Linked DNA regions of Homo sapiens. The protein of the gene in region 1 purifies or fractionates together with the protein of each later gene. This does not show direct contact. Each region holds a gene or a part of one and is shown on either strand. Other genes may lie near its edges.

Evidence for each region.
Region 2: the proteins of SEC16B (region 1) and POTEF purify together in Homo sapiens (affinity purification with mass spectrometry; 2 studies listed by BioGRID and IntAct, with this or other methods). This does not show direct contact.

What each region holds. Positions count from the first base shown.
Region 1 is NC_000001.11:177,967,160-177,971,431, reverse strand, and holds the start of SEC16B (protein transport protein Sec16B), read left to right. Parts: upstream 1-1,373; 5' UTR 1,374-1,548; intron 1,549-3,392; 5' UTR 3,393-3,450; coding exon 3,451-3,749; intron 3,750-4,272. Other genes in the region: CRYZL2P-SEC16B (protein transport protein Sec16B), read left to right, coding at 3,451-3,749. UniProt on the Homo sapiens protein: Plays a role in the organization of the endoplasmic reticulum exit sites (ERES), also known as transitional endoplasmic reticulum (tER). Required for secretory cargo traffic from the endoplasmic reticulum to the Golgi apparatus.
Region 2 is NC_000002.12:130,087,549-130,091,365, forward strand, and holds part of POTEF (POTE ankyrin domain family member F), read right to left. Parts: intron 590-3,817; coding exon 519-589; intron 1-518.

The DNA.
Region 1 (4,272 bases):
CCATTAGAGAGCCAAACTTCACAGCCCAAGAGTGAGGTAAGAAACCATTAGTGGCTAGGCATGGTGGCTTACGCCTGTAATCCCAGCACTTTGGGAGGCTCAGGCAGGTGGATCACAAGGTCAGGAGTTTGAGACCAGCCTGGCCAACATGATGAAACCCCTTCTTTACTAAAAATACAAAAATTAGCCAGGGGTGGTGGCACGCACCTGTAATCCCAGCTACTCGGGAGGCTGAGGCAGGAGAATTGCTTGAACCTGGGAGGTAGAGGTTGCAGTGAGCTGAGATTGTACCATTAAACTCCATCTCTGGGCGACAGAGAAAGACTCTGTCTTGGAAAAAAAAAAAAAGAAACCATTAGCTACAGTCAGAGAATTCTATGCTCAGTTGCTGGGTTCTAGAGTCAGCTGAGGGGCTGAGAGAAAATCTTGTAGCTTAGGTACATGACCCTATATGACCATGAGACCCAAGAGGGGTGGTTTTCCCTGGACTAGTAAGGACAGACATGAGAGACTAATTTGTGTCTTTTATATTTATGTGTGTCAAATCCTGGCCCTTAATAGGAACACAGTAAGCATTTGTTGAGAGAAAGAATAAACCATTTGGGATTTTTTAAAAGAGCAAATTCAGAATTTTAAAATATTAATTCAGAAGTAGTCATGTGCTTTTCTGCGTTTACCTTAATAATGCAGAAGAAATGTATATTTCAAGTGCGAGAAACTACTTTCTTGTTATAATGGAAAACTTTTTAGTGCCTTCAGTTCAGTACTGGGGATATAAATCTGCCTTCCAGCTAGATGACAGAATTTATTACATAACCAGAACCCAATGGTGAGAAATATACATAAGAAAAACCCACACTGGGCAAACCAGGTGTTTGCTCCCACCAGTGAGCGTGTCCCCTTCCCCATGTGCCTCAACCAGTGGAATTAACTTGTCTCTTTGGGAAGGAAAAGATAATATTGATCTGCAGGGCATACTTACCTATATATCATGTGCTGCTTTACCAACATTTCAGCCCCGTAATGACCCTCATAAGCTAAGCATTGCCATTCCCATTTTAAAGAAAAAGAAACTGAAACTCGGAGAGGTTAAGTAACAGAACCAGCTAGTGGTAGAGCCCCGAGTTAACACCCCAAAGGTGGTGCTTTTCTCGCCAGACCAGGCTGCCTTGGGGCTTCTGGACTTCCTCTTCCTGATGTCTCTCTTCCGTGATTGCTGTGGGAATTTGGATGATTTCTCATGTGAGTGAACCTGGCTCAGCCCATGCTCAGGCAAACAGAAGCGCCAGTCTCTGACAGGGTTCTGAGCAAATTCGTCAAGTCAGGCGGGTCCTGGGCTGCGGTATCTGGGCTGTACTTTGCCCTAATGAATCAGCTCCATGGAGGTTGGGCAGTTGCAAAGGTAACTGACATGATGTAGATCTGAGGGCCTGGGGAGTCTTGGTAGATGTGGCACCTGGACTTTGACAGTCTCCAAGAGGAGAGGAGGCACTCTTGGGCCAGGTCCCTGGAGCAGCGCTGAAGGAAGGTGGGAAGCCATCAGAGCAGGTGTGTGGGAACACTCGCTCCCTTCTTTCCCCTCTTTGAGCTGGACGTGCTGTGCCGTCAGATTAGGAAAGGCAAGATTGCCTTTACTGGGGCTAGGAAAGGTCATCTACATGAATGTGTGAGTCTGATTTGTCATCATAGATGTAATTCCTTCATTTTGAGAATCGAAGGTGTTATTTATTTGGTGTCCTTAATCTGAGGACTGATTTGCTGGAGTTGATGTCTCTTGGCAGCAAAATGATGTGATTTCAGTGGAAAGATTGGGTGTTGCACCTTTGCAGTTGGGAAAGGGCTGCCTAATGAGACTATCTGGGGACAAGGAGAAAGCAGGTTTCTTCTCATTCTGCTTACTTGGTCCAAATGGTTTTGAGTTCCACCAGCCTTCAGAAAAGGCTCATGTGCCCTTCCCTGTGTCTGGGACATTTGGCCTTTCCTGGGATTTGCTGGCAAAGGCTGTCATTGCACCTGGCTTTTTCAAGGGAGTGAGATGATATGGGAAGGAAGCCAGAGGTTCCCCTGAGTTGTGAGTGACCTTGAGGTGGGAGGCCCCCTCCGCACCTTGTTCTTCTTGTGTGTTCTGCCGTCTCATAGCTCTTGGCTCATAGCTGTCGACCTCGGCTCCCTGGTGTTTGAGCAGAGTGACGTCTCAATTTCAACACCCACTCTTTTGACCTTTTGTTCTGATATGAATTTTTATATGAGGCTGGGACCTTCAGTAGTGGAAACAAGTTAACTGATTTGATCAGAATCTTGCAACCTAAAACAGTTCCTAAGGAAGAAAAAAATCGAGGCCGACCTAGCCTGTGGATGCTCCTGACACAAGGAATCCCTGAGCAAGAGTAAGATCTGAGGCGTGCTTTCCTTTTGTGGGTGCAACCCCTGTCCCCCGCTACCCCGTGCAATGGGCAGAGGAACCTGGAAGGTAATCAGTCCTTGGAGCAATTTCCCTTTTTCAGGATTACGTGGGGGAAAATTAGTTTGATGCTAGGGAGACTTTCAGCATTTAAAATCTCCAACCGGGAAGAATCCTGAGATATGGCCTTCTATTTTCTTATGAAAACAATCCCAAATTTGCCTCTTGTTGGCTCCTCTGGAGGAGGAGCAGGTATGACCATATTATATAGGTTCTAGTTCTTTGAGGGGGTTAATGTAAGGATTCAGAAAAGGTGCTTCTTGAAAAGGTCAGTCTAAATTTCTTTTTGTTTAATAAACATCTTCAGCCACTCATACTACCCTAATCTTTATCCTTGATAACACTGCTATTTATTGAGCATTTTAACATGTTAGGTAACATGTTACGCACTTCGCATAGGTTATCTTTAACTCTGTCAATAACCTTGCAAGGTAGTCCTTACAGTCTCCATTTCATGGGTAAGGAAATTGAGGCTTGAAAAAATGAACTAGCTAGTTAAGTGGCAGAGTTAGGATTTGAACTCTGATCTAGCTCTCTGCAAGACCCACTCTGTTTATGATACCACAGGGCCTCCGCTGTAAGTGTTAAATAAACACTTGCTGGGGGAATATGTGAAGAAACATCAACTGGGATTCCTTGATAGCATTTTTAGCTGTACCTATTATTGTTATCTGTCTCCCTTGCCTCCCTCATCTGTCGTTGTTCCACATGTACTTTTTAATTTTTTAAGCAATATTAATATAATTGTCTAGTCTGTTATTTGCTTCATGTATCTGAGATTGTTTCTCAGATTTCTCTGTATCCGTGACCATATGGTTTGTTTTAGATATATTTCGAGGACCATAGCTGCTCTTTTCACAAAACCTAATCAACCACTATGTTTGGATATAGGCTTCAAGTGATGATTTTTTCCTTTTTCTTTTGTCTGCAGGAAGATAAAATAACTGCACAACTTACTCAAAACCCAGGACAAATTCAGAGAGTCAAGGATGGAACTTTGGGCTCCCCAGAGGCTGCCCCAGACACGAGGGAAGGCCACAGCACCCTCAAAGGATCCAGACCGAGGGTTTCGGAGAGATGGACATCATCGGCCTGTCCCTCACTCTTGGCACAATGGAGAGAGGTTTCACCAATGGCAAGACAACCGTGGGAGCCCCCAGCCACAGCAGGAGCCCAGGGCAGACCATCAGCAGCAGCCCCATTATGCATCCAGGCCAGGGGACTGGCATCAGCCTGTGTCTGGAGTTGACTATTACGAAGGTGGTTATCGCAATCAGTTGTATTCAAGGTATGGCTTTAGGGCTTGGAATGAATGCAACTCTCCTAAATGCGTATGAATAGGTTGTTCTTTTCCTTCTTCCTTTTCCTTTTATTTTTCTCCCCCTTTTTTCTTTTTCCTTCTCTACCTTACTACGTGGCTTTAGCTAAATCCTGTCCTCTCCCAAATTTGTTTTTGATGACTGAAGATAGTATTTCTCTCCTGTTTTTCCCCTAGTGGAGCTTCTTAAAGAAGCCATCACAAATGCCACTGGGTATGGGGGCTTGGGGAGGCAGTGTCAAGGGTAGAAAAAGTGGTGAAATTCAAGACAGCAGATGGAACCCTCTTGCTCTGGGATTGCAAAAGTTCATTTATGTAGACTATGGAAAAGCTTTTCTTGGAGATCCCTATAAGGAGTTCCTCGTTGTCATTGGACCACTCTACCTTGGGATTAGCATGACACTACCAGCACCAAGAAGAGTCCTAGTGCCTACGACAGTACCCGGAATGGAACAGGCATACCAATAATCTGTATTGAATGAATGGGAACTTA
Region 2 (3,817 bases), on another chromosome or scaffold:
TCAAATATTAAATTAGAATCTATTGATTCTTCTGTTAATAAGGTTGCTGATTTTATTACAATAAATTTTAAGAATCTATTAAAATTTTTTTTTTTTTTTTTTTCACATGGAGTCTCGCTCTGTCACCCAGGCTGGAGTGTAGTGGTGGATGTCGGCTCACTGCAAGCTCCCTCTCCTGGGTTCATGCCATTCTCCTGCCTCAGCCTCCCGAGTAGCTGGGACTACAGGCACCCACCACCACGCCCAGCTAAGTTTTTGTATTTTTACTAGAGACGGGGTTTCACCATGTTAGCCAGGATGGTCTCGATCTCCAGACCTCGTGATCCACCTGCCTCAGCCTCTCAAAGTGCTGGGATTACAGGCGTGAGCCACCTTGCCTGGCCAAAAGATTCTTAAAAAAACAATCTACTGATTCTCAAAGCCTAGTCTGAAAGGTAATTTCATTTGGACTATCTAATATTATTAAGGCAAAAAAAACACAACATTAAACAAAAGTTTAAATTTAAAAGTTTCCATGCCTCTGGCTGGCCATTTTCACTGCCTTTAAGCCTTTGTGACTCTTCCTCTGATGTCAGCTTTAAGTCTTGTTCTGTTGAAAAATCCATACATTCAGTTAAAATCAACCACTTAAAACAGTTAAAAACTATTGCCTTTTAAAAACAGATTTGAGACATTTCATTTTATTTCATAAATTGAGTGTTTCATCTTTTGTGAAATTGTCATTTAAGAAATAATTCTCAAAAACTTCAAAAACCCACTTGGGGAGATAGCAGATGTCACCAGATTGAAGACAAACAAACATGTCAAAAATTCCCTCACAAATTCATCCACCCAACATCCATGAACAAAACCACCAGAAACACAGCTTTAAAATACAGTAGAAACATATAAGGTGACACAGTGTACTGTTCTCCACTTCCTAATAGTACCTTATAAATGATTTCCAAAATCACTGCTGACACCTTTATTAGTGTACAACATCTTCCTAATATCTAAAATGTTTCTCTCCACTATTCTGACAAATTTATTTTCTTTTTTTCTTTTTTCTTTTTTTTTTTTTATGAGCTAGAGTCTTCCTCTGTCACCAGGCTGGAATGCAGTGGTGTGATCAGCTCACTGCAACCTCCGCGACCCTGGTTCAAGTGATTCTCCTGCTTCAGTCTCCTGAGTAACTGTGATTACAGGCAAGCACCACCACACCCAGCTGATTTTTGTATTTTTAGTAGAGATGGGGTTTCACCATTGGACAGGATGGTCTCGATCTCCTGACCTCGTGATTCCCTCTGAAAGTGCTGGGATTACAGGTGTGAGCCACCACACCTGGCCTTATTTTCATCTTTTGAAACAATGCTATATGAAGTCTTCCTTGATTCTGCATGTCTTTCCCCAAATAAACAGGTACCTCCTTCCTTGAGGCTGCCTTAGTACTTTACTGATTTTTCTACTGCATCTTGACCACCTAAACTGTACATTATTCCTCCACGTCTGTCCCCTCTGCTCCAAGACTGCAGGGGAGAGTCTTGCACATCATCTTTGTAAAAACAGTCTTTGTTTTACTCAGAAATATTTTATTGAGTCCTGCTAAATACATGCTAGGCATTAGGGTTTAAAAAGAATTAAAATAAAGCATGTCAGAGATGGCTTTTCTAGAACACATGCCCAAGCAGAGACTTAAATATTGAGACTAGCCAGATTAAAAGGTGTAGAGGGCAGGAAAGGGTGACGGCATGCCACGCAGCAGCAAGAGCGGGAGCGACTCCTGAAAGAGTGAAAGTATTTGCCTACAATAGAAGGATGAGTGAGTAGGGCACTGCCAGCAGTTCAGTAATGCCAGAGACAGGGCACACAGGGAAAAGGGCTAAAGATGGAGAGTGGGGCAGAAGTCAGATTATGAAAGCATTATGTGTAATTTTAAGATGCTTGAACATTAATGTTCAAAAGTGGTCCCGGGTCCTATCTGCATTTAGATATAGATCATTTCAATGCCAAAACCAATATTCCTAGTGAACAATTATTCATTAAGACAAGGTGACAGATAGCTCATGTGGACACAGCTGAGATGATACAATGTAGCAAATTCTAAACAATTCTCATGAACACTTGGAAAGTCAGTTCTATAATAAAGTCATACAAATTATAATAAATCAGTAAATATTTGGTTTCGGAAGATGCTTTGTAAAGTTATAATGCATATGAATACAATTAACAGTCGTGAATTCAGAGCTGTGAAAATAAATCAAAGAAACCACATTGTGTTTGAGTCAGCAATCTTTAGATTTCTATCCAGTCTTCCCATCCAGTCCATAAATTCTAAGTATAATCCTGGTACTCACTCTCAAGTTTACGTTAAATACTATCCCATTACAAAAAAACACTCTTTCTCTTACTTCTTTTCATTATGTCCTGCTAAAAAGATTCTGATTGGCTGCAGGCGGCAAGAGGGAAAAACAAAAAGCACATTTTGCAGAAAATGATTATTTAGAAGTCAGAACTATGACATGAAGCCAAGCAGGGCACTCTAGGACCGAATTTGCTGTGCTGCCTTCATACGCTCCTTGCTCTTTCTTTTCTGGCAGCTGTGACTCACACAGGTCATGGAGAGTATCATTCCCTAAGAGGAACAACTCCGATATTCATCTTTATCTATTAAGTTCATCTGTCCCAATTCTGTGTTCTGTGGATGCTGACTTTCTGTCACGGACGATGATGCACATGGACATTTATTACTGACTTTCAGATTCTTGGATCTTTGACAAGTCTTATTACTTAGAGTCAAACTAGTAGGATGCGAGTTATAAATGCTGATTATCCAATTACCTACTCAAAATACCCTACACGAATATTCCATTAAACATGCATCGAAAAACATTAGTCATTCCTGCTGACCTGCTGCTCTTTGCTCTCCTGTATTCACCAGAAAATTTCCTACTCCTTCCTCATGTCCAGGTTAAATACTAGTGTGCAATCTGGAAACCTGTACATCATCTGAGATTTCTCTCTGTCCCCCAAGCCTTTCTCATTCAATTATCACTAAATCATATTGACTATACCTCTCTTCTGCCTCTGTTTTATATTCCCACTGCCACTGGGAACACAAACATTTACAAAATGACTTCTATTTAAAAGAAAACTGCCAACTATTAATGTTATTTCTTACAGGAAAAAAAATTAAGCAAAACAAGTGAAAAAGGCATAACGAAGGCCAACATAGTAAAATGAGTAACTGAGATTTCTAACGTTATTTATTTTACCATGGACGGGTGAAAACCTTGTAATACATTGATGCTACTCCAAGGATGTGTGACATGGAAACTATAGCTGACTACTGCAAAAGCTTCCTTTGTCTCCTGGTTTCTTTGCATGATTATCTCCCATCAATCCCAGGAAACTATAGGCCACAGGCCAAATCCAATCTGCATTATGGTTTTGTAAATAAAGTTTTATAGGAGCTCAGTCATGCCTGTTTGCTTACATATAATCATGGTGGCTTTCACACTACAACAGCAGACAACAGCACGGTTAAGTAGATATGACAGAGACCACATAGTCCAAAATATTTCCCACCTGGTCCTTTAAAGAAAAAGCTTGCTAACCCATTTTACACCATAACCAGAATGCCTTAATACTCAAATTTAATCTTGTGGCTCCCCTGCTCAAATTTCTCCAATGAGCCCCCTCCAGCACACATTGTTGGCTCCCTATCAATAGCCATTCCTCATTCTTTCTGGCAGAAAAAACATAAGTCTATTGGGATATTTAATATCCCAATCCCCCTCCTCAGCCTCAGAAAGAAATGTTTATTCTAAGCTAATCAGAT